Linked DNA regions of Homo sapiens. The protein of the gene in region 2 purifies or fractionates together with the protein of the main gene of each other region. This does not show direct contact. Each region holds a gene or a part of one and is shown on either strand. Other genes may lie near its edges.

The links.
Region 1: the proteins of HIBCH (region 2) and PRCP fractionate together in Homo sapiens (co-fractionation; one large-scale study listed by BioGRID). This does not show direct contact.
Region 3: the proteins of HIBCH (region 2) and CLIC4 fractionate together in Homo sapiens (co-fractionation; one large-scale study listed by BioGRID). This does not show direct contact.
Region 4: the proteins of HIBCH (region 2) and FLCN purify together in Homo sapiens (affinity purification with mass spectrometry; one large-scale study listed by BioGRID and IntAct). This does not show direct contact.
Region 5: the proteins of HIBCH (region 2) and ALDH6A1 fractionate together in Homo sapiens (co-fractionation; one large-scale study listed by BioGRID). This does not show direct contact.
Region 6: the proteins of HIBCH (region 2) and ACOT9 fractionate together in Homo sapiens (co-fractionation; one large-scale study listed by BioGRID). This does not show direct contact.
Region 7: the proteins of HIBCH (region 2) and CLIC5 fractionate together in Homo sapiens (co-fractionation; one large-scale study listed by BioGRID). This does not show direct contact.

The regions. Positions count from the first base shown.
Region 1 is NC_000011.10:82,893,687-82,898,083, forward strand, and holds part of PRCP (lysosomal Pro-X carboxypeptidase isoform 1 preproprotein), read right to left. Parts: intron 1-4,397. UniProt on the Homo sapiens protein: Cleaves C-terminal amino acids linked to proline in peptides such as angiotensin II, III and des-Arg9-bradykinin. This cleavage occurs at acidic pH, but enzymatic activity is retained with some substrates at neutral pH.
Region 2 is NC_000002.12:190,312,767-190,317,163, reverse strand, and holds part of HIBCH (3-hydroxyisobutyryl-CoA hydrolase, mitochondrial isoform 1 precursor), read left to right. Parts: intron 1-4,397. UniProt on the Homo sapiens protein: Hydrolyzes 3-hydroxyisobutyryl-CoA (HIBYL-CoA), a saline catabolite. Has high activity toward isobutyryl-CoA. Could be an isobutyryl-CoA dehydrogenase that functions in valine catabolism. Also hydrolyzes 3-hydroxypropanoyl-CoA.
Region 3 is NC_000001.11:24,797,238-24,801,634, reverse strand, and holds part of CLIC4 (chloride intracellular channel protein 4), read right to left. Parts: intron 3,894-4,397; coding exon 3,784-3,893; intron 1-3,783. UniProt on the Homo sapiens protein: In the soluble state, catalyzes glutaredoxin-like thiol disulfide exchange reactions with reduced glutathione as electron donor. Can insert into membranes and form voltage-dependent multi-ion conductive channels.
Region 4 is NC_000017.11:17,229,772-17,234,168, forward strand, and holds part of FLCN (folliculin), read right to left. Parts: intron 3,131-4,397; 5' UTR 3,017-3,130; intron 2,112-3,016; 5' UTR 2,023-2,111; intron 60-2,022; exon of another isoform or gene 1-59. UniProt on the Homo sapiens protein: Multi-functional protein, involved in both the cellular response to amino acid availability and in the regulation of glycolysis.
Region 5 is NC_000014.9:74,063,493-74,067,889, forward strand, and holds part of ALDH6A1 (methylmalonate-semialdehyde/malonate-semialdehyde dehydrogenase [acylating], mitochondrial isoform 1 precursor), read right to left. Parts: intron 4,078-4,397; coding exon 3,888-4,077; intron 3,395-3,887; coding exon 3,213-3,394; intron 2,601-3,212; exon of another isoform or gene 1,869-2,600; coding exon 1,689-1,868; exon of another isoform or gene 1,429-1,688; coding exon 1,330-1,428; exon of another isoform or gene 1,297-1,329; coding exon of another isoform or gene 1,196-1,296; intron 1-1,195. UniProt on the Homo sapiens protein: Malonate and methylmalonate semialdehyde dehydrogenase involved in the catabolism of valine, thymine, and compounds catabolized by way of beta-alanine, including uracil and cytidine.
Region 6 is NC_000023.11:23,708,469-23,712,865, forward strand, and holds part of ACOT9 (acyl-coenzyme A thioesterase 9, mitochondrial isoform a precursor), read right to left. Parts: intron 1-4,397. UniProt on the Homo sapiens protein: Mitochondrial acyl-CoA thioesterase. Catalyzes the hydrolysis of acyl-CoAs into free fatty acids and coenzyme A (CoA), regulating their respective intracellular levels. Regulates both mitochondrial lipid and amino acid metabolism.
Region 7 is NC_000006.12:45,897,529-45,901,330, forward strand, and holds the end of CLIC5 (chloride intracellular channel protein 5), read right to left. Parts: 3' UTR 928-3,802; downstream 1-927. UniProt on the Homo sapiens protein: In the soluble state, catalyzes glutaredoxin-like thiol disulfide exchange reactions with reduced glutathione as electron donor. Can insert into membranes and form non-selective ion channels almost equally permeable to Na(+), K(+) and Cl(-).

The DNA.
Region 1 (4,397 bases), on a different chromosome or scaffold from region 2:
GGATGCTGAGGTGGGAGGATCACTTGAGCCCATAGGTTCAAGGCTCTAGTGAGCTATGATCACATGGCTTCACTCCAGCCTGAGTGACAGAGCAAGATCCTGTCTAAAAATAAACAAACAAAAAGGATAGTTCTCTTGCCTACAAAATGGAATAATAGCATCTACCTCATAGAACAGTAATAGGGATTAATTAAGTGAATGTCTATTAAGTACTTAGGATAATATTTACGGTATTTGAAGCTTTCAATAAATGGTAGTAAATTACTATCATTAATAATGCATTAGACACATTTACACTACATATGTAATTTTACTTTCATCTCTTACTCCTTATTCATTTTAATTTATGGTCAATTTTTTCAATTCATAATATCTTTATTAAGAAGTACCATATCCTGTCAGAACCATATAAAAAAATAAAAAGAAGTACCATCCAAGGCACTAGAAATGAAGACAAATAAGATCTACCATCAAGGTATTCTCCTTACCTATGATTCTCCTTTCTTCTGCAATAGACCCACAACCAAGCAAACTTTAAAATCATAAACACAATGTTTTATTATATTATAATATAAATCAACTATGCAATATTATAAATATTGTACCAATTGAAGAGGTGATTACTTTTTAATTTAAAAACACTTTATATGTTATGGGTCTGTGTCTTATTCAAAGTCAAGATAGTAAAGTTGTTTAGGTCCAATTCATCAAAGGCAATTAATGTTATGGCAAAAAACAAAACTTGTACCCACATTCCCACTGTTCCTAACGCAGTGCCCTATAAACAGGAGGCACTCAGTGAACAAAATTATAGGTAAATCAGAGATCAGCAGATCCAATCCATTTATCTTACAAATTAGTACAATGAGATCTAGAGGGTTAGGCAACTTGCCCAAAAGTATGATGTGATTTAGTGGCAGGGCTGATCCTAGAACCCAAACTTTGAAAATGTTTTAAAAGTCTAAATTCTCTAAAGCACAAAGTTCCTGCAGTATGCTGACAGAGGAATATAAACAAGTCAGTGAAAAACCTAAAGTTAATTTTTATTGAAATTAGATTTTAGCATTAGCTAGTAAGAAATTTAAAACTCAGCTATCAGAAAGACAGTGTTAGATTTACTATTGTTATCAAGAGAAGAAGGTACTTCCAAAAACCTAAAAGGGTAAATTCATTACCATATTTCCCCCCAACACTTTATCAACACTTAAAATAGCATAGAAAGAAAAATAGAAATAGTTTCATATGCTTCTTTTTATGTACAGAATCTTGTGTGAAAAGAATGATTTTAAGCAAGAAAAAAGGTTAATTCCTAGGCCACAAATCTATTAAAGTATTGATTATTTTAATCCTATTGATTTTAAAAAAGTGAAGGGGTTAATTAAAGCCATGTACATTAGGAAACTGCAAGATAAAAATAATGTTTATCATTTATTGTTTACTAACTGTTATGCACTGTGCTAAATATGCACTTTACACATACCACCTCTTTTTACAACAAACTTATGGTATAGGTAATATAATTATCTCCATTTTGCTGATTATGAAAATAGGGGCTGCCTCTGAGTAACTTACTCAGGTAGTGGCAGAAACAGAACTTGCTCTCAAACCTGTTTGCCTCTAAATGGTATGCTTTAGGTTTTGTTGTAGTTGTTTTTTGTTTTTTGTAGAGACAGGGTCTCACTATGTTGCCCAACCTGGTCTCTAGCTCCTGCCCTCAAGTGATCCTCCTAGCCTCTCAAAATGCTAGGATTACAGGTGTGAGCCACCACACCCAGCACTAAAAGCTGTGCTTTTAACCACCCTCCTGTTCAAGCTCTATCAAGTTTCTGACCCTCTATAATTTAGATCAAGGTCAATCCATCATATCTAAGGGGAAGGCTACATGATCTCTAAGGCCCCTTCTAAAAATGATTCTGTGTCACCAAACACATAAATCAGTTCTGAATTCACACAATATTTCTGACAGGACACTCCAGGCCTAAGGGAAAGTCCATCAATAGATGAACAGATAAGAAGAGGAGAAAGGGGAAGAAAAATTTAAAGGAGGAGGAGAAAGATCTTTATCAACATGCCCTACAAGGTGCCTAACATAGCTAGACATAACATTTTACTAGACATCAGGGCCACTGTGACAAAGGTGGGAAAGGGGAACCTAGAACAGCAATTGAAAGTGGAACTATAAAGGATGTACATAAATTTAAATAGCTTAGCCCACTGATGTGATCCCCTCACAGCAAATGAGGAAGGAGCTGCAGAAGTCAGTGACCATGAGCTCAATGCTGGGCCAACACACAGACTTGTAACAGAAACAATGATCAGCAGTTAAATAGGAATAGCTGGGTACTAAGTTTTCAGAAGAGGCATTACCACTATTGTCATGCATTTGGATGAGAGTGTATTTTCAGGACAGAGTTGTGAAGGAACTAGCACTTGTTCCATCAAGTTGTTTAAACTCCTACCATGTTTTATGCACCATCCATGTGGCTTTCATTTGTTACGACACTGAACTCTGACAACAACCTTGGTGGATGTGATGATTAATTTTATATGCCAACTTTATAGGCCATGGTGCCCGGCTATTTAGTCAAATATCATTCTAGATGTTTTTGTGAAGGTATTTTTTGGATGAGATTAACATTTATATCAGCGGACTTTAAATCAGTGGACTTTACCCTCCATAATTTGGGTGGGCCTTATCTAATCAGTTTAAGGCCTTAATAGAACAAAGTTTGACTTCCCCTCACTTTGGGAGGCCAAGGTGGGTGGATCACTTGAGGTCAGGAATTCAAGACCAGCCTGGCCAACATGGTAAAACCCTGTCTGTATTTTAAAAACTGCAAAAATTAGCCAGGCGTGGTGGCGGGCACCTGTAATCCTAGCTACTCGGGAGGCTAAGGCAGGGGAATCACTTGAACCCAGGAGGCAGATGTTGCAGTGAGCCGAGATCTCACCACTGCACCCCAGCCTGGGCAACAGAGCGAGACTCCAACTCAAAAAAAAAAAAAAAAAAAAAAAAGACTGACTTCCCCTAAGCAAGAAGAAATTCTGCCAGCAGAATGCCTGGGCATCCAAACTGCAACTCTTCCCTGGGTTTCCAGCCTCCAACCTACCCTGAAGATTTTGGACTTACTAAGCCTCCACAATTGCATGAGCCAATTCCTTAATAAAAATCTCTCTCATAGAGAGAGAAACACACAGACACACACCCTAATACAATAGATATTGCTCCCAATTTTACCACTGAGAAAAATGATGGCCTGACAGGACCCATTCTCCCTCTTCACTACATCACACACTAAAATGTGTGATTTGGGACTCACATTCTAGCCTGAGGGGCTCAGGTGGGAGGTACAAGGTAATAAGCATGCAACATTGTAACCACAAGCCACATATTCCAGAGAGCCCTTTATGACACTGATACCACACATACTACACATGTACCCAGAGCCTCGATGTGCCCAAGTGATGTACTATCCTCTCTCTGGTCTCCTAATTCAGTTATTTCAGGTAAAAGAAATCAAATAGTCCTACCTAACTCAATATTTGAAGACCTTGAAAAAGGAGGAAAAAATAATTAGTAAAGAATTAAAGTAAAAGATAAAAAGAAAAATAAAAAATGATTTGTGACAATTAAATGATGGTAGCCTTTGCTTTGTTTAGGTTCTTTTTGAATAATCATGCATTCACTCTTTCAACAACTATTTATTTTGTGCTTTATACTTTTTTATAGGCTCTTCTAGGTATTGTAGAGTACTAACGAGCTGGAGGGACACATACAATATAGTAAATGTGCAGGATGAAAAAAGACCAACTAAATTTCCTTAAAGAAGTCAAAGATTCGCAGAAGAGGTGAGACATTTCTGCTGGAATAGAATTATGAGTTTAAATAGTGGGGAAGAGGGATGGTATTCCAGACAGAATTTCTGACACAGTAAAAGTCACTTGAGTCTGTTAGGTTGCTAAAAGTGGGAGCTGGGATGGGGAATTATGGCAGAATATAAAGTTGGAACGACCAGCTAGGGTTACATAGTAAGGAACAATGGATTCCCATGCCAAGGTGTTTGGCCTTTATCCTGCAATCAGAGTTATGAAGAATTTCTAAGCAGGGGAGGGATAAGACCATGGGCTAAGCCTTCTTAGAGACCACTCCATAAAACCACATCCTTTATATACATAGAAGGACAGCTGGGTCCAGCTTGGTCACTGGGGCAGATATAACCACAGGTAAATCATTATAAAGTTTAATAAAAATTAAACCTTGAATAAAAAACTAAGCCTTACAGTTTTAATAATAAGTTTATTACTAGAAGGCATCAAAGTATTTCATGTGCTCTAACTTAAAAACTTAAAGTTGAGTTCACACATAGTCCTAACTAAAAATCAATGGTTCAGAAATT
Region 2 (4,397 bases):
TTGAGAGGCCAACATGGGAGTTCAAGACAATCCTGGGCAACATAGCAAGACCCCGTTTCTACAAAAAATAAGAAATAAAAAAACTAGCTGGGTATGGTGGCATACGCCTATCCTTCCAGCTTGGGAGGCTGAGGTGGGAGGATCACTTGAGCCACAGAGTTCAAGTTTACAGTGAACTATGATTGTGCCACTGCCCTCTAGCCTGGGCAACATGGAAAAACCTAGTCTCTAAAAATAGAAATAACAGGAAGAGGGTACTTTTAGGTTGTTAATAGGCCTCATTGCCTTTTCCATCTCCTCCATCCTCTGCTGAACTGTATTGTTTTGGTTCTTGCTCTTTGCCTGTCTTCTCTTTTACTTCTAGTTAGTTGTTTCTTAGTTGATCAAAGGCTCAATCTTTGTTGCTCTTTTAGGTTGTTTTCTGTGTTAGGAATCATGAGCCTGAATGCAGAGGCTGAGAAGGAAGCATTGAAAGATGCTGGCTAGATGGCAGCATGGGGGACTGGTGAACTGGAGAGAGTGCTCTAGAGAGGAGGCAGCTTCTCAGCCCCAGCCATTGTTGCCCTTATAGAATATAGACCCAGGGTTTCCATTATTACTGATTTTTCTGGAAAACCTGGAAAAAGTGCAGTTTTAGGTGAAATGTCTTGATTTTTAAATGTTAGTAGTTTTTTTCTGTTTTTCTTCTTTTTAATCTCTACCATTCCATCCAGATAATGTTAGTAGTTTTAAAACTGCTCGGCTGGGCATGGTGACTCAAGTCTGTAATGCCAGCACTTTGGGTGGCTGAGGCTGGAGGATCACAGCCCATGAATTTGAGACCAGCCTGGGCAACATAGACTGTCTCTCTACAAAAAATTTAAAAATCAGCCAGGTGTGGTGGTGTGCGCCTGTAGTCTTAGCTGTTCAGGAGGCTTGAGTCCAGGAGATTGAGGCTGCATTTGAGCCCATGTATCATACCACTGCACTCCAGCCTGGGTGACAGAGTGAGACCCTGTCTCTAAAAATAAATAAATAAATAGAATACAAAAATAAAATGCTGCTGACCAATACCACAGTTACAGTTGGCATCTTTCTGGCAATTAGTTTTCAACTGCAGCCTTCTCATTTATTCCTTACAGAAAGCTGAGAGATTCCAGTGTCTCAGTGATTGTACATGCATGTGGCATAAGATATACCTTTAGTTCTAACTTTTCTTTCAACCTCTAGTCTCTTTCTTCTGTTGACTATTTCTGCTTATGTCAGTACAAATTCAAATTCAAAAAATTGAATTTGTATTTCGTCCTGCAAACCAGCTAGCTTCTTTCCCTGTCTTTTCTATATTCTCCTGGTTGTCCTGGCTTGAAATCTTAAAGTCATTTTTGACATTCCTTTCCATTGAGTTTTTACTTTATAAAAACTCTTAATAATATCACTCCCTTCTGTTTCCACATCTGCTGTTCTTCATCACCCCATGCCTAAATTATTGGCCTCCTGGACTTGATTTTCTGCTCTGTTCACACCTTGCCTACTTCTGGGATAATAATTTTCACTAAGCACTACTTTGTGATGTCTTCTTCCTGCTTAAGCAGTTTCATGTAGTTGTTTAATTTCGTGAGGCCATGTTTGTTTTATTGGATAATTGCAAAAAGTTCCTGAGTGATAAAGTTCTCATCTAAGACAGTTGTTTATTTAAACTTCACGCATCATAACCACCTGGAGGGTTTGTTAAACACAGATTTCTGGGCCCCACAGTTTCTTGTTCAGTAGGTCTGGGGTGGGGCAGAGAATTTCAGTTTCTAGTCAGTTTCCAGGGGATGTTGATGGTACTTGTCCAAGAACCATACTTTGAGAATAACTGTTCTAAAAAGCCAAGTTGACATCAGTTGAAGGAAATAAGCCTGATAAAGTTAATTAAGAAATTAGAAGTAGCAGGCCGGGCACAGTGGCTCATGCCTGTAATTTCAGCACTTTGGGAGGCTGAGGCGGGCGGATCAAGAAAGAAGTCAGGAGATCATGACCATGCTGGCTAACATGGTGAAACCCCGTTTCTACTAAAAATACAAAAAATTAGCCGGGCATGGTGGCAGGCACCTGTAGTCCCAGCTACTCAGGAGACTGAGGCAGGAGAATGGCGTGAACCCGGAAGGCAGAGCCTGCAGTGAGCCGAGATTGCACCACTGCACTCCAGCCTGGGCGACAGAGAGAGACTCAGGCTCAAAAAAAAAAAGGAGCGGAGAGGTGCATGCCCTCTTCCTCTCCACCAGATGGCAGTTTTGGAACCAATAGAAAAGAAAGATCATAAATTCAGAATTACCTGGGGACACTGAATTCTCAATTACATTTTGAGGTATAAAAGCTAATATCAAATTTTAAGTGACAGCTGAATTTGAATTAGAACGAATGGGCTGGGTGCGGTGGCTCACACCTGTCATCCCAGCACTTTGGGAGGCCCAGGTGGGCGGATCACCTGAGGTTGGGAGTTCAAGACTAGCCTGGCCAACATGGAGAAACCTCGTCTCTACTAAAAATACAAAAATAAGCCGGGTGTGGTGACGCATGCCTGCAATCCCAGCTACTCGGGAGGCTGAGGCAGGAGAATTGCTGGAACCTGGGAGGCAGAGGTTGCAGTGAGCTGAGATCGTGCCACTGCGCTGCAGCCTGGGTGACACAGCAAGACTCTGTCTCAAAACCAACCAACCAACCAAATGGAAGCAATGTGATTATATAGTATTTGACAAGGAATTTGGTTGTGTGTGTATATATATATACACATATATACGTATATATATACATATATATACACATATATACGTATATATATACGTATATATACACATATATATGTATATATACATATATACATATATATACACATATATATGTATATATACATATATATATATTTTTTTTGTAGTAACTGGTCCACAGATTTTTGTGACCTATAAATATTGTGTACAGTGGCTTTGTTTGATAGGTTTACATTAACTTTCTTTGAGTTAAATAAAATTCTGTCTTATATATAAAACTGGGACTTGGAGTTAGTCCTGAGTTCTCTTTGTTTACTTGTTAAAACACTGCAGTTAGTACTTACACTGTTACATAATAGTTGCAAATCTGGCAACACCCTCTTGAACCTTGAACCTACATTTGGGTACTGGCCTCATTAAGGAATCCAAAGTCATTCTGGATTTTTATGCTTAAAATCTCCAGAAAGATAAAATTGAGTCAAGTTGAAAACATTTTAGACGTGGTGTTTTAGGGTAGTGTAGTTCACACTTTAAAAGTAATTATGAAAACCTTATTTAGAAAGTATCCCTAAATAAGATATGATCTGTCACTTCAGTTTCATAATTATAAAGTGTTAGTGTTGATTTTTAATGACAGCTTCGTTCTTTGAAATCATTTAGGGGAGCTTCAAACAAAGTATCTGTGCCTGTGCCCCACCTCCAGAGTTTGATTTAATTGGTCTTGGGTGTGACCTGGGCTTTGGAATTTTTAGCAGTCTCCAGGTGATTCCTTTTTTTTTTTTTTTTTTTTTGTGAGACAGAGTCTCTTGTCACCCAGGCTGGAGTGCAGTGGCACAATCTCGGCTCACTGCAACCTCTGTGTTAGAAATACCAAAATTGTTAGATAAGTGGTGTTGTGAAGAAAAGTCAGCACGGAGGCAAAAGATTTATCAGCAAGGCCATTTTTACTTTCTGCAGAAAGGGTCCCCAATTGCAGATGGAACAATGGCGAGAGCACACTTGACAAAGGAAAAGCAGACATATTTATCCCTTACGCATTTGGGTTGTCCTTAATGCTGTGTCCTGCATCCATTGGCTGGAGTGGGACCTCACACTCTTAAACTGATACCCAATATGCTAATAGCCTAAATAGGTAAGTGTAGGGAAGAACAAAGAAGTTGCTTATGAAAGGTTTAAGGAAGCAATAACATTTTTAAATAAGGGGAATAGGCTGTGAGCTCGAACATGCCCGTGAGCATGTCCAATAGTTACGTAGGATAGGGCTTAACAAAGAGTTACTAGCACAAAGCAAGGAGGCATGAAGAAAGTTAGTCTTTAAAAGAAATTATTATTTCTAACAGTTATGATTTATTCTTTAACAGGAAGAAAAACTTTGAAGAGGAAACTTTTTACTTTCTACACTCTGCCTCCCAGGTTTAAGCTATTCTCCTGCCTCAGCCTCCTGAGTAGCTGGGATTACAGGCGCCCACCACCATGCCTGGCTAATTTTTGTACTTTTAGTGGAAACGGGGTTTCGCCTTGTTGGCCAGGCTGGTCTGAAACTCCTGACCTCAGGTGATCCGCCTGCCTTGGCCTCCCAAAGTGCTGGGATTACAGGCATGAGTCACCATGCCCAGCCGAGTCTCCAGGTGATTCTAATGTACAGACCAGTCTTGGAATTACTGGGCT
Region 3 (4,397 bases), on a different chromosome or scaffold from region 2:
ATTAATTCTGCCACTTTATCAAGTGATAGGCTGTCAATATCTTTTCCTGGACACTGTTCATGACTTGATATATAATATGGTTTAAATTTCTGTCCTTGCCCAAATCTCATATCAAATTGTAATTTTCAATGGTGGAAGAGGGGCCTTGTGGGAGGTGACTGGATCACAAGGGCAGACTTCCCTTGCTGTTCCTGTGACAGAGAGTGAGTTCTCACAAGATCTGGTTGTTTAAAAATATGTAACACCTCCCCCTTCTCTCTTCTTCCTTCTCCGGCCATGAAAGACATGTCTGCTTCCCCTTTGACTTCTATCATACTTGTAAGTCTCCTGAGGCCTCCCCAGACAAGTTTCCTGTACAACCTGCAGAACTGCCAGTCAATTAAACCTCTTTTCTTTATGAATTACCCAGTCTCAGGTAGTTCTTTATAGCAATGTGAGAACAGACTAATAGTTTTAAAAATCAGTATAATAGCAAATCATGTTGTGACACTTGCATCAAGAGGAATCCACTGCCAAACCCTAGTTTTTCCCATTAATACAACTATTCTTTTTTTTTTTTTTAATTTATTTTTTTATTGATAATTCTTGGGTGTTTCTCACAGAGGGGGATTTGGCAGGGTCATGGGACAATAGTGGAGGGAAGGTCAGCAGATAAACAAGTGAACAAAGGTCTCTGGTTTTCCTAGGCAGAGGACCCTGCGGCCTTCCGCAGTGTTTGTCCCTGATTACTTGAGATTAGGGAGTGGTGATGACTCTTAACGAGCATGCTGCCTTCAAGCATCTGTTTAGCAAAGCACATCTTGCACCACCCTTAATCCATTTAACCCTGAGTGGACACAGCACACGTTTCAGAGAGCACAGGGTTGGGGGTAAGGTCACAGACCAACAAGATCCCAAGGCAGAAGAATTTTTCTTAGTGCAGAACAAAATGAAAAGTCTCCCATGTCTACTTCTTTCTACACAGACACGGCAACCATCCGATTTCTCAATCTTCTCCCCACCTTTCCCGCCTTTCTATTCCACAAAGCCGCCATTGTCATCCTGGCCCATTCTCAATGAACTGTTGGGCACACCTCCCAGACGGGGTGGTGGCCAGGCAGAGGGGCTCCTCACTTCCCAGTAGGGGCGGCCGGGCAGAGGCGCCCCTCACCTCCCGGACGGGGCGGCTGGCCGGGCAGGGGGCTGACCCCTCCACCTCCCTCCCAGACGGGGCAGCTGGCCAGGCTGGGGGCTGACCCCCCCACCTCCCTCCCGGACGGGGCGGCTGGCCGGGTGGGGGGCTGACCCCCCCACCTCCCTCCCGGACGGGGCGGCTGGCCGGGCAGAGGGGCTCCTCACTTCCCAGTAGGGGCGGCCGGGCAGAGGCGCCCCTCACCTCCCAGACGGGGCGGCTGGCCAGGTGGGGGGGCTGACCCCCCCCCCCGGACGGGGTGGCTGGCCGGGCGGGGGGCTGACCCCCCCCACCTCCCTCCCGGACGGGGCGGCTGGCCGGGCAGAGGGGCTCCTCACTTCCCAGTAGGGGCGGCCGGGCAGAGGCGCCCCTCACCTCCCAGACGGGGCAGCTGGCCGGGCAGGGGGCTGACCCCCCCACCTCCCTCCCGGACGGGGCGGCTGGCCGGGCAGAGGGGCTCCTCACTTCCCAGTAGGGGCGGCCGGGCAGAGGCGCCCCTCACCTCCCAGACGGGGCGGCTGGCCAGGTGGGGGGGCTGACCCCCCCCCCCGGACGGGGTGGCTGGCCGGGCGGGGGGCTGACCCCCCCCACCTCCCTCCCGGACGGGGCGGCTGGCCGGGCAGAGGGGCTCCTCACTTCCCAGTAGGGGCGGCCGGGCAGAGGCGCCCCTCACCTCCCAGACGGGGCAGCTGGCCGGGCAGGGGGCTGACCCCCCCACCTCCCTCCCGGACGGGGCGGCTGGCCGGGCGGGGGGCTGACCCCCCCACCTCCCTCCCGGACGGGGCGGCTGGCCGGGCGGGGGGGCTGACCCCCCCCACCTCCCTCCCCGACGGGGCGGCTGGCCGGGCGGGGGGCTGACCCCCCCACCTCCCTCCCCGACGGGGCGGCTGGCCGGGCGGAGACGCTCCTCACTTCCCAGATGGGGGGGCTGCCGGGCGGAGACGCTCCTCACTTCCCAGATGGGGTGGCTGCCGGGTGGAGAGGCTCCTCACTTCTCAGACGGGGCAGCTGCCGGGCGGAGGGGCTTCCTCACTTCTCAGACGGGGTGGTTGCCAGGCAGAGGGTCTCCTCACTTCTCAGACGGGGCGGCCGGACAGAGACGCTCCTCACCTCCCAGACGGGGTTGCGGCCGGGCAGAGGCGCTCCTCACATCCCAGATGGGGAGGCGGGGCAGAGGCGCTCCCCACATCTCAGACGATGGGCGGCCGGGCAGAGACGCTCCTCACTTCCTAGATGTGATGGCAGCCGGGAAGAGGCGCCGCTCCTCACTTCCTAGATGGGATGGCGGCCAGGCGGAGACGCTCCTCACTTTCCAGACTAGGCAGCCAGGCAGAGGGGCTCCTCACATCCCAGACGATGCGCGGCCAGGCAGAGACACTCCTCACTTCCCAGATGGGGTGGCGGCCGGGCAGAGGCTGCAATCTCGGCACTTTGGGAGGCCAAGGCAGACGGCTGGGAGGTGGAGGTTGCAGCGAGCCGAGATCACGCCACTGCACTCCAGCCTGGGCACCATTGAGCACTGAGTGAACCAGACTCCGTCTGCAATCCCGGCACCTCGGGAGGCCGAGGCTGGCGGATCACTCGCGGTTAGGGGCTGGAGACCTGCCCGGCCAACACAGCGAAACCCCGTCTCCACCAAAACCAGTCAGGCGTGGCGGCGCGTGCCTGCAATCGCAGGCACTCGGCAGGCTGAGGCAGGAGAATCAGGCAGGGAGGTTGCAGTGAGCCGAGATGGCGGCAGTACAGTCCAGCTTCGGCTCCGCATGAGAGGGAGACCGTGGAAAGAGAGGGAGACCGTGGAAAGAGAGGGACACCGTGGGGAGAGGGAGAGGAAGAGCAATACAACTATTCTTAACCCTTGATTTAAATCTTTTGGGGAAGGGGATGTATGAATGTTCTTCACCTCAGACCTGTTTGCTAAAGGTGAATAGACATTCCTGAATAAAACAGAGCTTTCTACTCATCACGGCTCTTCTCAGCCCTCTCCACTATGGAAAATAAGCCATAAAGTCATCCAGGAGAGAAACCTACAAACAACTCTTCACTTAGCAAGAACAGACACCGGGCCACAGATAATTGCTCTTATTTTACAATACATTTAAACAAATATGATTAAAATACTTGCATTATAGCTAAAATGCTATAGAAAATTACTGTTATTCTCTGAAAAATAAATTAAATGAAATTGACAACAACGGTATTCAACCTCCTAAAAATCCTTGTCTTTGAAGATCCAGATTATAAAGATCACATGCTTAACACATTTGGGGCCAAGATGATGTCTGCTTAGAAAGCTCTTCATGACTCCATGTTTACACTGGAAAAAAGAAGTCAAGGATTTCACTGCATCCACACTAACACTTAGCTCCTAGTGCTACTCATGAAATTTAAGGTAAACATACAAAAGTTCCTAAAAAAGACTGAGTAGCCACGCAGTATACTGACAGCGTGACTTGTCCAAAATAGTTATATACAAGTTGTTTGTCCATAAACCAGCAGAACTTTAATACAATATATTTCCTTTAGAGAATATGTGCCATCAAGGTGAAAATAGGATCAAACTGAAAAGATAGTTCAGCTTAAGTTGATTGCAAACTGCGACCATGTCTTACCTTTTCAGGTCAACAGTCGTCACACTAAATACAACTCCTTTGAGCCAAAGAATCATGAAGAGCCTCTGGGAAAAGGGGCAGTTTCCTATGCTTTCACCATCACTGCCAGCCTGGAAAACAGAATTAAACATTAAAAACAAGGTCAAAGTGATGATACTCAACATGACATAACTTTTTCTGAATTTTAATCAAGAGTACAAGAAGCCAGGAAAAGTTACATTGTGGAAGGAAGAGTAGAAATTTGGGTCTTTATTATTTTGTTCTTTCATTAGCCTTTTTTTTTTTTTTTCTTTTTTTGAGACAGGGTCTCCTTCTGTCACCCAGGCTGGAGTGCAGTGGTGCGATCTCAGCTCACTGCAACCTTCACCTCCCATCTTAGCCTCCCAAGCAGCTGGAGCTACAGGCACGTACCACCATCCCGGCTAATTTTTAATAGTTTTAGTAGAGACAGGGTTTCACCATGTTATCCAGGTTGGTCTTGAACTCCTGGGCTCAAGTGATCCACCTGCCTCAGCCTCCTAAAGTGCTGGGATTACAGGCATGAGCCACTGCACCCAGCTAGCGCTAGCCTCTTTCTTTTCTTAAAAATGATCAGTCTAGGGCCAGGCGTGGTG
Region 4 (4,397 bases), on a different chromosome or scaffold from region 2:
AGGAGTGGGTAGAGAGAGCCCTTTGGAGAGTTTCCGTGGCAGAGCCAGCAATGGGACACCTGGTGGGGACATGGAGTCAAGGAAAGCCCCAAGCTTGGCCACAGTACAGCTGCGATGCCGGCGGAACCATGTGAAGGCCAGGGGCAGCTGCAGGCACAAAGTCTGAGGGACACCAAGCACTCATTGCAGAGGGATGGCCGCGGCAGCATGAGGCAGTATGCCTTCCTAACGAATGCAGGAAAGCCAGAGAAGGCTTTAAAATGGGGGTGTGTCATGGGGTTCTCACTGGCAGAGAAGTTCTGGAAACGAGACCGCAAAAGCAAAGGTGCACAGTGGGGACAGCCACAGCCAACAGCCTGACATGTGACACAGCCTGACACATGCAGCCAGACCCACATTGTCCATACGGTGGCCACAGCTATGTGTGACAACTTAAATTTAAAATTTAAATTAGCTAGGAGAGGCCGGCACAGTGGCTCATGCCTGTAATCCCATGAGCCTGTAATCCCAACACTTTGGGAGGCTGAGGCGGGTGGATCACTTGAGGTCAGGAGTTTGAGACCAGCCTGGCCGACGCAGTGAAACCCTGCCTCTACTAAGAATACAAAGATTAGCCAGGTGTGGTGGTGTGCGCTGGTAGTCCCAGCTACTCAGGAGGCTGAGGCACGAGAATCACTTGAACCTGGGAGGCAAGGTTGCAGTGAGCCGAGATCGCACCACGGCACTCGAGCCTGGGCAACAAAGTGAGACTCAGTCTCAAAAAAAACCAAAAACAACAAAAACAAAACAAAATAAAACAAAAACCTTAGCTGGGCGTGTTGGCGGTCACCTATAAACCCAGCTACTTGGGAGGCTGAGGGAGGAGAATCACTTGAACCTGGGAGGCGGAGGTTGCAGTGAGCCAAGACTAGGTCACTGCACTCCAGCCTTTATGACAGGGCGAGACTCCATCTCAAAAAAAAAAAAAAAAAAGTAGCCTGGAGTGGTGGCGCACGCTTGTAGTCCCAACTACTTGGGAGGCCTAGGCAGGAGAATCGCTCGAACCTGGGAGGTGGAGGTTGCAGTGAGCTGAGATCGTACTACTACATTCCAGCCTGGGTGACAGAGTGAGTGAGACTTCGTCTCGAAAAAATTAAATAAATAGGCTGAGTGCGGTTGTTCATGCCTGTAATCCCAGCACTTTGGGAGGCCGAGGTGGGCAGATCACTTGAGGTCAGGAGTTCAAGACCAGCCTGGCCAACATGGCAAAACCCCATTTCTACTACAAGTACAAAAAAAATTAGCCAGGCATGGTGGCGCACACCTGTAGTCCCAGCTACTCAAGAGGCTGAGGCGGGAGAATTGCTTGAACCTAGGAGGCGAAGGTTGCAGTGAGCCAAGACTGCGCAACTGCAGTCCAGCCTGGGCGACAGAGAGACTCCGTCTCAAAATAAATAATGAATTAATTAATTAATATATTAGCTAGGACAAAAGCTCAGCCCTTCTGTCTCACCGGCCATGTCCTGAGTGTTTGCTAGGCACACACGACTCACGCCACCCCTCTGAATAGCCCAGGTCACAGAATATTTCTGCCTTCCCAGAAAGCCCCATTGCTTTCTGGGTGTGGCTGGCAGGGAATGGAGGGCTGGTGCTCAGTAGGTGCACTCCGAGAGGGAGGCAGACAGGCAGCGGGAGAGGAAACAGAGTTTCAATAAAGGGCCCAAGTCAGACTTGCTTGGGACGATGAAGAATCATGTAAGTTTCTGAATGTTTGACTGAGTAGTGGACACTGGCCAGGACCCAAAGCCTCTTCTCTTCTGGGGAGCCCCCACCCCTGTTACGGATCCAAAAGTCAGACGTTCTGTCTTCGCTCCTGACAGGCAGGCTGTGAACACAAACAAGGCATGGCCTGCCAAAGCCGCTAACTCTAGGAAGAAGCAAAGGACGATGTGCATGGTGGTGGGGGGTGCTGCAGCCAGCCTCTCTGCCGGCGGCCCATGCCTGGAACTGCTTCTTCAGCATGCCTGCGAATGCACCACCCACCTGACGTTTCTGCAGTTGGCTGCTTAGCTGCACGAGCTGCTCCGGCACCTGTCCTCCTGCTGAGATACGGCTGAGCACGAGTGGTCACACTGGGAATGGCAGAGGCAGACAGAAAACAGACATTTGAAGAGAACCTTAGCTGGGCTGGCAGTGAGGCAGGTGTGGGAGTCAGAGAGGGAGACCCTGGGTGTGGCTGGCAGGGAATGGAGGGCTAGTGCTCTGTAGGTGCACTCCGAGAGGGAGGCAGACAGGCAGCGGGAGAGGAAACATACGCATTTAACAGATGGCAGAACTTCTAGCTGGAAGGCCCTGAGAACTCAGCAAAGATGCAGGCTGCAGGACAGGAGAGGGCAGGGCTGGGGACAAAGGTCAGGAATGCTCCACACACCGTCACCTGGCTCACTCCTCACCACTCGGCCTCCACTTGCTCCCCTGCTCAGAGTACCCCTTGCCAGCCCACCAGAAGAGCTCCCCTCCACCCCGACACCCTCCCCTGCCCTGCTTTGAGTCGTAGCGCTCCTCATCGCAGAACTGCGCCTCCAAAGTGCCTTCCTGACACACAGGAAGCGCCACATTCACGTGTTAGATAAATGAGAGGACTGAGAAGTCGCCCTTGGAAAGATGACAGCTGTTGCCAAGAAAGGGGCGGAATCTAGGGGCGGCAGAGGTTCAGGAGCCACAGCTGTGGGGAAGGCCGGAGCCAGAGTCTAGTGGCACAGGAACCAAACAGACAGTTTCAATAAAGGGCCCACAGGGTTCACTATGATGAGTGGCTTAAAAATCTACTGCTCAACAGGAGATGGGGCGACCACTGATGGAGTAAGGGGTAGCAGGACCCAAAGGAAAGGTAAAGGCATTAAACTGCGAAAAGGAAGGCCACGCCTTTCTCTGAGAGGCATCAGGGGAAGAGAAATAAGGTTCCTTCTAGCAAGACATGCACAGGACAGCAAGCCTGGGCCAAGTCTCAGCCCACCTGCAGAGCACCCACACTAACCTGACACTCAGCAGAATCACGCTTCCACCGTCCACACCAGACCACCACACACGAGGCTGCTGCCAAATGGGTCAGGCATGGTGGTGGCAGACACCCTTGAAGACCTGGCGTTTTCTAGGTAAGAGAAAAAAAAAATTAGAGCTATTTCTAAGATTAGAGGCCTTCGTAGCATGAAAAATAATGGGAGCAGCTTACAGCCAGTCTCAAATAAGAACGTGTCTGATGAGGATGTAGACACTCCCCAGGGTTCTGAATGGCTTAGCAGGCCTCTGACCTTCTCAGCAGGAGCTGACATTTTAGCTGAACTCTTGCACCTCTGAGGCACTCTAAACCAGTATTTGATCAAGGATCTCTGTATTTATTTTTTTAGAGATAGGGTCTTGAGGCCAGCTCAGTGGCTCATGCTTGTAATCCCAACACTTCGGGAGGCCAAGGCAGGAGGATTGCTTCAGCCCATGAGTTTGAGACCAGCCTGGGTAACACAGTGAGACCCTGTCTCTACAAAAAATTTTTAAAAAAAATTAGCCAGGCCGGGCGCGGTGGCTCACGCCTGTAACCCCGGCACTTTGGGAGGCCGAGGTGGGCAGATCAGGAGGTCAGGAGATCGAGACCATCCTGGCTAACATGGTGAAACCCCATCTCTACTAAAAATACAAAAAAAATCAGCCAGGCATGGTGACAGGCGCCTATAGTCCCAGCTACTCGGGAGGCTGAGGCAGGAGAATGGCGTGAACCTGAGACGCAGAGCTTGCAGTGAGCCAAGATCACGGCACTGCACTCCAGCCTGGGCGACACAGCAAGACTCCATCTCAAAAAAAAAAAAAAAAAAAAAAATTAGCCGGGCATGCCTCTAGTCCAAGTTACTTGGGGGACTAAGTTGGGAGGTCACTTCAGCCTGGGAGGTCAAGGCTGCAAGTTCCCATCTTTCCTTTTTTTTTTTTTTTTTTTTTTTTGAGACCAAGTTTCACTCTTGTCACCCAGGCTGGAGTGCAATGGCGTGATCTCAGCTCACTGCAACCTCTGCCTCCCAGGTTTAAGTGATTCTCCTGCCTCAGCCTCCTGAGTAGCTGGGATTACAGGTGTCTGCCACCACACCTGGCTAATTTTTGTATTTTAGTAGAGACAGAGTTTCACCATGTTGGCCAGGCTGGTCTCGAACTCCCGACCTCAGGTGATCCACCTACCTCAGCCTCCCTAAGTGCTAGGATTACAGGCATGAGCCACTGCATCCAGCCAAGTCCCCATCTTTCTTACTCTTGGTTATAAGGGGGTGCTCTGGCAGCATCTACATCACACCAACTTACTTTTCAGGCCATAGGCCTGGCAGTTTCCTTCTCAAGCAGGAGAGGGAAACCAGAGGCAACGCTGACAAGCCACTTCC
Region 5 (4,397 bases), on a different chromosome or scaffold from region 2:
TAATTCAGTCCTTACAATGTTATGAAATACATAGGTACTATTGTTATTCATTTTATACGTGAATAAATTTAAGGCATAAAGAAGGTATCCTGGTTGGCTGTGGTGGCTCATGCCTGTAATCCCAGCACTTTAGGAGGCTGAGGCAGGCGGATCACCTGAGGTCAGGAATTCGAGACCAGCCTGGCCAAAATGGTGAAACCCTATCTCCACTAAAAATACAAAAATTAGCCAAGTGTGGTGGTGGGCATCTGTAATCCCAGCTACTTGGGAGGCTGAGGCAGGAGAATTGCTTGAACCTGGGAGGCGGAGGTTGCAGTGAGCCAAGATTGTGCCACCGCACCCCAGCCTGTGCGACAGAGTGAGACTCTGTCTCAAAAAAAAAAAAAAAATTAATGGTATCCCCCAAAGTCAGACAGCTAATAACTGGCTTAGCTGGGATTTGAACACAGGCAATTTGGTTCCAGATCTGCTTTACTTTTCTTGTTCAGTGCTGTATTCATAGTGCCTAAAATAATGTCTGCTACAGACCGGGCAGAGTGGCTCACACCTGTAATCCCAGTGCTTTGGGAGGCTGAGGTGGGTGGATCACAAGGTCAGGAGTTCAAGACCAGCCTGGCCAACATGGTGAAACCCTGTCTCTACTAAAAAACAAAAAATTATCCAGGCATGGTGGCAGGCACCTGTAGTCCCAGCTATTCGGGAGGCTGAGGCAGGAGAAGTGCTTGAACCCAGGAGGCGGAGGTTGCAGTGAGCTAAGACCATGCCACAGCACTCCAGCCTGGGCAACAGAGCGAGACTGTGTCTCAAAAAAAAAAAAAATAATAATAATAATAGTAATAATAATGTCTGCTACAAAGAACGTGCTCAACAACATTTTTTGTAAATGAATAACTATTACAGAAAAAATACGTGCAATGGGAACACACTGGGGTCACACTACCCAGCACTGAGGGAGGGGTGGTGGTAGTTGGAGGAGATTTTCTGGAGGAGCTCATTTTTTAAAGTGAGACATGACAGATGATTAGGAGTTAGTCAGATGAAAGGGGAGAGATGGGGAAGAGGGTCACACACTCAGGAAATGGCATATACAAAGGCTTAGACTTCCCCATGCTCTTTCCTCAAAACTTTGTTGCTTTGAATTATTCAGGAAGAAGCAGCTTTGGCAAAATTTTGTTAACTTTTAAATCTTTTTTAGGGAACCTTCTGAGAAGCACTGATTATGACCTCACAGATGCTGCTGGCAGTCCCTTCCTTGCAGAATCCTTGCTCCTGAATATCTTTAAGAAAATTTCTTAAAGGAAAAGACAAAAAATTTAACTCAAAAGTTACCTGTTTGCCATAGAAATTGGTGTCTCCCCTGAAGGAGGATCGAGAGCCGGTGAATGAGAACATTGGCAAAGGCACTGGAATGGGGACATTCACTCCCACCTAAAACAGAACAAATCCGTGTCATATCCTAAGGACAAAGGAACTCTCCATTTAGAAACACAAAGGCATCAGAGACCAGTTTTAAATACCCACCTTCTACCCTATCCTCTACCCCATGAACTTTCATTCCTGAGGAAGAAATGGGGCAATGTGGGAGGTCATGGGGGCAATCTTAAACCAATGACTCACCATTATTTACTGTTTCCTCTTAGGAAATAGTAAATGGATATAAGAATCTCTTAAAAATTCTGTTCACGAACCTGTCCAACATCCACCAAGTGGGCATATTTCCGAGCAGTGGCTCCATTGGTGGTGAAGATGGCAGTTCCATTTCCATATGGGTTGTTATTTACAATCTGGATGGCTTCATCCAATGTTTCTGTCTCCAGAACCACAAGAACTGGACCAAAAATCTCCTCTTTGTAACAGGTCATATTTGGCTGCCAGGAGTGATGCATCCAGAAAAGAAGTCAGCTTTTTGGATTCTGAGTATTTTATGCTTATTTGGTACTTTCACTTACTACACATCATTTACGTGGACAACTTTCATATTACTAATCTCTTTTCATTTCAAATCACCTATTTAAAAAAAAAGTCCTCTCTCAAGTGTATTCCGTCTTCCAAGTTACCAATCATATAAACAACTTGGAATTCCTATCAACAATAACCACACTTCCTTTAAGGGACTGTATCTTTAGTTCATGACCCATCATCAGCTGCCTTTTTAATACCTGAACGACTAGTTTCATCCAATTGTTATCAAAAAGTTACATGAAAATTTATTTTTTATAAATCCAATCTATAGTAAATATACCAGGATAATTTTTCTCTTTACAGAAACCCCATGCTGTTTTCTGTAACATAAATAATCCATTCTTATTCACTCCTTTGCCTCCCAAATATGTCTGTATGTTTATATTTTGATATCAGGTCGCAGACACTCAAAACATCCTTCACCATGCAATTAATGTTTGTTGCTGATAAACGGATTTTTCTGTATGGTTCTGTGGCAAGAGATTTCATAATTTCTACTGCACTTACATTCAACACTTGATGATTCACTATTATAGTAAGGATATATGAATTTCAAAAAATGCCTCATAACCTCAATTTTTAAGTCATGTTAGCTGAGAGACTTTCAAAGTTTTGATAAATAAAAATTGACAAGTCAATTATTTTTGTCACTTTCAATAAATATTGGGTGGTTGATATATTGATTGAGACACTGCAGTAGCCATAAGCTAGGCAGCAAGAGGGAGAGGGGAGAGAAAACATTAACAAACCAGTATAAGATAAGATAGCGTTTGGCAAACTATAGCCTGTGGGCCAAATGTGGCTTCCTGCCTGTTTTTGTACAGCCCCAAGTTAAAAATGGTTTTTGCATTTTTAAATGGTTGAAAAAAAATTAATCATATATAAAATGATATGAAATTCAAATATCAGTGTCCATAAATAACATTTTTTTTGGAACACAGCCACACAATGTTTATAGCTGATCTCACACTACAATGTCAGAGTTTAGTTGCAACAGACACTATATCCCTGCAAAGCTGGAAATATCTATCCCTTTATGGAAAGTCTGCAGACTGCTGGTATAGTGGAAAGAGTTTGGTTGGGAGTTAGAAGGAGAGGCTCATTCAGACTCCAGATAAAATAATTGATCAATCCTGGCAAGAGATAAGGTCTTAGTCATTAAGTATTTTCATTAATAAATTAGAGGGATGAGATTCTATAGCCTTTAAGGTGCCTTCAGCTCTCATATTTGTGAAGTGAAAGTTGTTCACCTTGACATTCGAGATGATGGTTGGTCCAACAAAGTTGCCATTTTCATAGCCTTTCACTTTAATTTTTCGTCCATCAAGAAGGATGGAAGCTCCCTCCTTTGTTCCACTATCAATCAGATTACAGACTCGCTCTTTGGCCTGGGGAGTGATCAGAGGGCCAAGATCAGCTCCAGGCTGATCTCCTGTAAAACAACACAGAAGAATTTAAGGTCCTCATTAACATAAATTATGACTGCTGCCAGGGCTCATGCCTGTAATCCCAAAGCTTTAGGAGGCCAAGGCAGGAGGACTGCTTGAGCCCAGGAGTTCCAGACCAGCCTGGGCAACAAAGTGAGACTTCATATTTACAAAAAATAAAAAAATTAGCCAGGTGGTGGCCCGCACCTGTGGTCCAAGCTGCTCAGGAGGCTGAGGCAGGAGGATCACTTGAGCCCAACAGTTTGAGGCTGCCATGAGCTAGGATGGTGCCACTGCACTCCAGCTTGGGTAACAGACAGCCTGTGCTTTAAAAAAAAAGACTGCTAACAAGATGACTCCAAATGACAAGTACAGTATAAAGAGAGGAAATGGCAAGAATAGACATGATTGTTCCCACTGGCCAAGGCCAGTGACAGAACCCAAGAGCTTAATGCCACAGATGCAAAATCTAAGGGGGCAAGTCAGGTGATTGATTACCTGCATTGACTCTCAGGTTTTTGGCATGCTCCACCAGCTCTGGCAGCCACTTCTTGGCTTCTCCCACAAGGACTGCTGTTGAAAGAGCCATGCAGCGCTGACCAGCAGCTCCAAATGCTGCCCCAACCAGCTGGTTCAGGGTATTTTCCTTATTGGCATCTGGCATGACTACCCCATGGTTCTTGGCTCCCTAAAAAAAAATGCAGAAAGCACATGAGTCTTCCTTGGCCAAATACAACTAAGCTAAGAAATTAAGCAGTGGACCAGGTGTGGTGGCTAATGCCTGTAATCCCAGCACTTTGGAAGGCTGAGGTGAGAAGGATAACTTGAGGTCAGGAGTTCAAGACCAGCCTAGGCAACATAGTGAAACACCATCTCTACAAAAAATACAAAAAATTAGCCAGGCATAATGGCACCAGTCTGTGGTCCCAGCTACTTGGGAAGCTGAGGTAGGGGGACCACTTGATCCTGGGAGGCGGAGGTTGCAGTGAGCCAAGATCACACCATTGT
Region 6 (4,397 bases), on a different chromosome or scaffold from region 2:
GCGGTGAGCCGAGATCGTGCCAGTGCACTCCAGCCTGGGCAACAAGAGCGAAACTCTGTCTCAAAAAAAGAAAAAAAAAAAAAAAAGAAAAAGAAAACTGGCTTGAACTCTTTAAAAATATCAATTTTTGAAAGACAGCAAATGGCAGAGAGACTATTCTAAAGAAACAGGATAACCAAATGCAATATACAATCCTTGATGGATTGGGTCCTGAATCAGGAAGATAGCTATAAAGGACATTTTAGGGACAACTGGTGAAATCTGAATACGGATCACATATTAAATAACTGTATCACTGTTGAATTTCTCAGATATAATAAAGGCATTGAGGTTATGGAGAAATACCTGGTTCTTAGGAAATACATGCTGAACTCCTGAATGGGTGAAGCAGTCTCAAACTTACTTTCCAATGATTCATGGGAAAAAATATGTAAATGTGTGTATTTGTAGAGAGAGGGTAAGAGAATTACGCAAATGTAATACAATTTACGTGAAAGGCATACGTTTGTTGCATTATTCTATCTACTTTTCTGTAAGCATCAAATTTTTTGAAATAAAAAATAAGGGAAAAGGGATAATATTTCACTGTGGTAGAATCAAAAGATTTGATGAAACAACAATGGAAACAAAAGAATTAAAACAGGCCGGGGGCAGTGGTTCACGCTCGTAATCCCAGCACTTCGGGAGGCCAAGGCAGGTGGATCACCTAAGGTCAGGAGTTCGAGACCAGCCTGGTCAACATGGTGAAACCCCGTCTCTACTAAAAATACAAAAGTCAGCCGGGTGTGGTGGTAGGTGCCTGTAATCCCAGCTACTCAGGAGGCTGAGGCAGGAGAATCACTTGAACCCAGGAGGTAGAGGTTGCAGTGAGCCGAGATAGCACCACTGCACTCCAGCCTGGGTGACAAGAGCCAACCTCTGTCTTGAAAACAAAAAACAAAAGAATTGAAACAACAGCTTGGGAAAGTGACATGCATCAGCTGGGAGTGAAACTTGCAGCAGTGGCCTCAGTGCTTGAATACAAGCCCCAGGCCAGTCACTGGCCACAGCAGGTCAGCTGGGGCTGGCAGGAAGGGCCAGAGTAGATGGGTGTTATTCTTCCCTCAGATCACTAAGGGACCAACATATTTTTCTATCTTAATTTGGCTTTCCAAGTCAGCTTTCCACGCAGCAGCAAAGATTTTTCACTGCAGACTCCTAAATCAAGTTTCTAATACAAATGAGATTTCCCACAGGCCACTGGACTCTGTCCTGTGCAAAGAGCAATCCCTCCCACCCCAGCTCTACCCCCACAATTAGTTTTTCTCAGTTTGGGTGTAACTGTTGTTAGAAACCAAGAATTCAATTTCAGAGAAAAAAGATGACGTAAAGTAAGTTGAAGTCTATATGGTTAAATGACTTGAAAATGACCATATAAACTCATGAGGCTCTTTTTTTGAGGTAGGGTCTTGCCCTGTCGCCCAGGCTGGCGTGCAGTGGTGCGACCTTGGCTCACTGCAACCTCTGCTTCCCGGGTTAAAGCAATCCTCCCACCTCAGCCTCCCACATCGTCTGGGACTACAGACACATGCTACCATACCTGGCTAATTTTTTTGTACTTTTAGTAGAGATGGGGATTCGCCATGTTGGCCAGGCTGGTCTCAAACTCCTGGGCTCAAGTGATCTGCCCACCTCGGCCTCCCAAAGTGCTGGGATTACAGGCGTGAGCCACCACACCCAGCTCTCATGAGGTTTTTTGTTTGTTTAAAATATATCCTAGCTCTGTCCACTAAAAAGGCCTGGAAACAATAACAAACTAGTAACAATGTACAGTTCTAGTGCCCAGATTTTGATGTCTAAATACCAGTTCCCACTAAAAGGAACCCCAGGACTACTTGGAGAAATGGCTGACTCCAGGCCTGGGGCAGGAAATACGTAAGATGAGCCCAAGACATCTTGTGTCAGACAGCAGGAAGCTATCAAACAGACAGGTGGAAAGGAGCCAGCTTAGAGGAACTCCCACCGCCCAAAGAAGGCACACTTGGAGCATCAAGAGAAACAATGGCTGCAATTTATTGAAATACATGTAATATATTACAACCATGAATTCATAATGATGCTTTTCTGGCAGGACAGTGGCTCACACCTGTAATCCTAGCACTTTGGGAGGCCGAGGTGAGAGGATCACTTGAGCCCAGGATTTTGAGATCAGTTTGGCCAACATGGCAAAACCCCATCTCTACAAAAAATTTAAAAATTAGCTGGGCAGCTACTCAGGAGGCTGAGGCCAGAGAATCACTTGAACCAGGAGGTGGAGGTTGCAGTGAGCCGAGATTGCGCCACTGCACCCCAGCCGGGGCAACAAGAGTAAAACTCCATCTCAAAAAGAAAGAAAGAAAAAAAATTAGCTCGGCATGGTGGTATGTGCCTGTGGTCCCAGCTACTCAGGAGGCTGAGGCGGAAGGATTGCTTGAGCACAGGAGGCCCAGGCTGCAGTGAGCCATGCTCATGACACATGACAATGCACTCCAACCTGGAGAGAAGAGCAAAACTTCATCTCAAAAAAAATAAAAAAACAAAAAAAAAACGGGCTGGGCGAAATGACTCACGCCTGTTATCTCAGCACTTTGGAATCCCTAGGTGGGCAGATCACTTGAGGTCAGGAGATCGAGGCCAGCCTGGCCAACATGGTGAAACCCCGTCTCTACTATAAATACAAAACAAATTAGCCAAGCATAATGGGGCATGCCTGTAGTCCCAGCTACTTGGGAGGCAGAGGCAGGAGAATCTCTTCAACCCAGGAGACAGAGGCTGCAGTGAGCCGAGATTGCGCCACTGCAGTCCAGTGTGGGTGACTGAGCGAGACTCCATCTCAAAAACACACACACACAGAAAAAAAAAAAGAAATTTAAAAACATGATACTTTTCTAAAAAGCTAAAAAACTGGGAAAAGCATGTCATCACTAGCTAGTGAACCAACTCCTTATTCTGAAAACATGTAAATAAAAGACAAGAATGAAGCATTGATCCTAACTCCATTTCAAACCCAATCGCCCTAGTTGTTAAGGGAACGCTCTTCTTTACAGAATTCCAGCTAACAAACATAGAAGGAATGACAAAATTTGAGAATTACTCTAAACTGCCTAATGATACTAATTAAAGCAATGATCAGCAGTGGACATTGAAAGCACTGGAAAAAGACTGATGGGAAACTCAGCTATTTGCAGGATGACAAAGTACACCCCTGTAGATTGTTGCTGATCAGAAGAGGAAAAACTGAACTTCACAAAGGAGAGATTAGGCTGTAACTGCTTGAACCCACACACTAATCTTAGCATCACTGTGAGTGGGACAACCTGTACCTCCTGATACGATGCAATATGAAATACGAGATATACAACATCATCTATGTAGTACTCTCACCAAATATGCTCAACCTAAATCTAATACAAGGCTTTAGATCTAACTTCAGTTTAGAGAAATTACTAGGGATAGAGAAACAAGATCAAAAAACAAACAAACAAACCACCATGAGAAAGCAATAGAACAAATCCAGAAAGTGGGACACTATTTAGAACAAATGATCCAGCCTCTCAACGAGTGAATAAGAAACAATAGGGGAAGACACAACTGTTCTGGATTAAAACAGATTTAAGAGATTGCACAACTCAGCTGGGCATGGTGGCTCACGCCTGTAATCTCAACACTTTGGGAGGCTGAGGTGGGTGGATCACTTGAGGTCAGGAGTTCGAGACCAGCCTGGGCAACATAGTGAAACACCCCCCCATCTCTACTAAAAATACAAAAATTAGCCAGGCATGGTGGCACATGCCTGTAATCCCAGTTACTCAGGAGGCTGAGGCAGGAGAATCGCTCAAACCCAGGAGGCGGAGGTTGCAGTGAACCGAGATCCCACCATTGCACTCCAGCCTGGGCAACAAGAGCAAAACTCCATCTTAAAAAAAAAAAAAAAAAAAGGATAATATTCTCTTAAGTAACTACATTACTATTGTCATGCCTAACAAAAAATTACATTTGATTTTTATGTCTGTAAGTCTGTTTTTTTTTGATAACAGCTTTATTAAGGTATAATTCGCATACCACACAATTCACCCATTGAAAGTGTACAATTTAACGGCTTTTAGTGTATTCACAGAATTGTGCAACATCTCTTTTTGTTGTTGTTGTTTTGAGATGGAGTCTCGCTCTGTCGCCCAGGCTGGAGTGCAATGGCGCAATCTCGGCACACTGCAACTTCCACCTCCCAGAGTCAAGTAATTCTCGTGCCTCAGCCTCCCCAGTAGCTGGGACCATAGGCGCGTGCCACCACGCCCAGCTAATTTTTGTGTTTTTAGTAGAGATGGGGTTTCACCATGCCGGCCAGGCTGGTCTTCAACTCCTGACCTTAAGTGATCCAC
Region 7 (3,802 bases), on a different chromosome or scaffold from region 2:
ATCTACTGCACCTGTCCTGAGACCCTAGCTGCCCCTCCCATCAAGATCCACCCCTGGGTCTGCTGTTTCATTTCTTCCAAGGTAATGAAGTGCTGTTATGACTACCCTTTAGCAATGTGAATGCTCATAGAAGTCTTCATCAGACGTCACATTGGCTTCAGGTAAAGCTTACTAAGGACTCTGGGAACCTGAACCCAGAGTCAGTGATGTGGTGTTGAGAGTAGGGATTTCAGCCTAGGAACGCAAGCCACTGAGAGCCAACAGAGAGCTCTGGGCACAAGAAGAATGATATTTTAAGGAATTCTTTAAATCATACCTGGACTGTCACTGTTGATCTACCTCCATGGATGACAATGCAGATGGGAAATATGAGACACTGAAAGAGCATCAGTATAATTTTTTACCTAGCCCAGGTATTATGAAAGAATGTTTATTTAGTCTTGCAAAAAAAAAAAAATTGGTTTTAGGATGGCTGGTTCACAAACTTTGTGCTTTTCGTTTTCTTCTTCCTCTTTTCCATTTGCTTTTGATTTTTTTGTTTTGTTTTGCTTTGTTTGAGAGGGAGTCTCGCTCTGTCGGTGTCACTCAGGCTGGAGTGCAGTGGTGCAATCTCAGCTCACTGCAGCCTCCACCTCCCAGGTTCAAGCAATTCTCCTGCCTCAGCCTCCAAAGTAGCTGGGATTACAGTCGAATCACTTGAGGTCAGGAGTTCGAGGCCAGCCTGGCCAACATGGTGACACCCCCATCTCTACTAAAATACAAAAATTATCCAGGCATGCTTTGATTTTTAAAAAGAATGAACATTTTCCTTTATAATGGGAAAATAAATTAACCTTTATGTGGAAAAAAAAAAGGTACTTCATACTTGTCATCTAAAACAGCACAGGAAATCCCCACCTCAAATAAGAAGTTAGATGACCACTTTTGTAATATTTGAAAATAAACCAACTTTATTTGAATCAGTCAATACCAATCAAGACTGGAACACAAATTGGTAATTGGTTCAGATTCATGAGGAAAACACTCAGCTGTATCTTCATTAAAAGGCATTTTACATTTATTAAGGCTTGAAAGCAAGTCCTGTTATTCATCACCATAGTTAAAGGTCTCGAGAAAATCAAGTAACTATCATTTGGAGTGTCTTTGTAAAATGAAACACTTGTTCTTTTACAAAAGCTAAGCATCTTTTGTTAAGCTAGTTAACTCCCCAGCTTATAAAATAGGACAACGAGGTGGCCAGGAAAGTAAGACAAATTCAAACATCAGCTGGATAATTTATATTTTAAATATATGTATAGTCAATATTGTGAAATCTCTAACTCTACATAAAATACTTCAGATGACTGGATCCTTAAAAGTACATTTTACCAAAAACAGATTGCTTCTATAGAAACACAGAATAGCCCAAACCTTATATTGAGGCAACGTATTTTATTTATTTTTGGTTGCAAGAAAGGAATTGGATCTATTTCTTTAACGTTAAATGAAATTATGCACACTTTGGATCATACATAATTATGAATCGAAAGTATCCTGACACTAAGCTGGGAGATGCATACTGACAAAGGGGAAGAATGTGTGTTGATGAGGAGGGCACATGTTGCTTGATTTGAATGATAAAGAGAAATGGATAGAAGACAATGGGGCTGTGTGCAGCAGGTCCTGTTCGCTTAAGTTTTCCTAACATCAGAATCAGGGTGCTTCACATGCACATGTCTTTCTCTGATGCTTTCTTAAGATTCTCCTTAATGTCATTTAAAAAAATAAGAAAGTGATCCCTTGGGAATCATTGTACTTAGTTTTAACCATGAGTTAACATTTCCTTTTTCCAAGGAGGATGACACCAGCATCTTGATTCACCGTGCAGTTGAGATGGCCCCTGGCCAGTGGGAATTGAGGCGAGTCACAGAAGTACTTACCAAATACTCACCTGCTGCTTCTAGTTTAATTTAATTTTAGACACACACTCTCACAGTGATGCTAAACTCTTTACAAGATAGACCCGCAGCTTCCTGCCTCTGCCTCTCTCTTAGTTCTATTTGTCCAGGCCTTGCTGATTTCTGGGACTCTCATATGGTCAAGATCTATTTCAGGCATGACCTATCTTATGACAGTTCTAAGATGCTTGGTATTGTCTGTCTGTGGAGTGGCCATGGGGCACAGAACTGTGAAGAGCTTCTGTTGTTTCATTTGATAAGGGCCTGGAAAGTCAGCCTGGGAAAACTCGCACTTGGTGTGGCCTTTTTCTGATAAGATCAAGACTTCACTGGCCCCACCAGCACAAGAAGGGAATGCTGAGGACAGGGCCATTTCCCAAGATAAAACTAGTTTGGGATCGTGTGGCCAAATAAGCTGATGGACTCTGTTTCCGACATTTCAGCTCATTTGCTTAGTGCTAGGTCACTCTACCTCTCGTTTAAAAGAATATAGCTATGCTCACATCTGTGACTCTGAATTTATCAAGCATTTGACTTTCTTTATCAGGAGATGAAGAAACTGTGCTTTGGATCCATCATGATTTTACTTATCCAGCTTACTTTTTACAGTTATTAAAATCTTACTCAATACCTTCTCTCTGGGCCAAACTCAGAAGCAGGCATTGCTGACTAGACAGTGAATTCAACTCAGTCATTCTGAGTTTGACTCTTGCTTCTGCCTTCGTCTCCCACTACCCTGCTTCCCCCACCCCCAATAGTGCTGTGCAAGTCAAAGAAGATAAATAAATACAAAATAAAATAAGATCTCAACACAAATACATCCCCTTTCTGTGCCACCAAAATGCTTTCTGAGCGATTTGTATTCATTCAGGACCAATGAAAAGGAAGCCTCCTACCCTATAGCTGTATAGTTGTGGGGTCCCAACTGCAGACCCTCCCGTGCTCCCTGAGTTGTTCTTGGGACACCTAAGGACCTCACCACACTGTTGCTGAGACATGATGTGCTGCACATATGATAAGAAGGCCAGACAGGCTGAAGCATCTGGAGAAAGATCTCTTTTGAAACAAAAAAAAAAAGGAAGGTAATATTAATATTATTGTTACTTTAATATACCATAATAAATCTAGTCATAAGACACCATAACTAACTCTTAGTCCATAGTCACTTGCATTATATGATAATCCAGTGCTGAAATATAAAGAAATTTCTGAATTAAGTACCCAGAAGTGCCTTCCTTCTGTACTCCTCCCTCTCTTTCAAATGGCTATCATTGATCATATAACACCCCCACCTCCTTGTCTTAATATATTTATCTCTGTAAAACTAGCTCAACCACAGAAGGGACATCTAGAAACAGCAATATTGATTTGGTTTGGCCTGTTTGTTTTTAAGGACTTTCCAGTTGCTGAATTCTGAACATCCAATCCGAGTCCTTGGAATTCTGCAGACTTCTCTGGGGTGGAGTGGCCTCACCGGAGGCTTGGTTCTGTTTTCTCTGTGGCAATTGGCTATGATTCACAGATGTGTTTCCAGAACAGCCCAACTGTGGGTCTCAGGGAAGTAAACTGCCTCTTAGGTCATCCTGCCTGTGCTGTAAATTCGGGGAAGGATTTCTGAGTACAGCAGGATTTCACACTAATTAAAAGGCCTTCGGGATCATTTCAGCCCTCATCCCCCAGGAGGCCAGTTTGGGGCTTTTCCCTACAGTAAAAAAGGACTCTTTCCTCACCAGTTCTCCTTGTTAAACATCTCCAGGGCACAATTTCCAGGGGGACCTGGAAAGGTTCCTTTTGAGGTGGAAATGAATCAACTCATTCCGCCTTTTCAAAGCTTTCTCAGGCTTATAAAGTGTCCTACTGAGAAA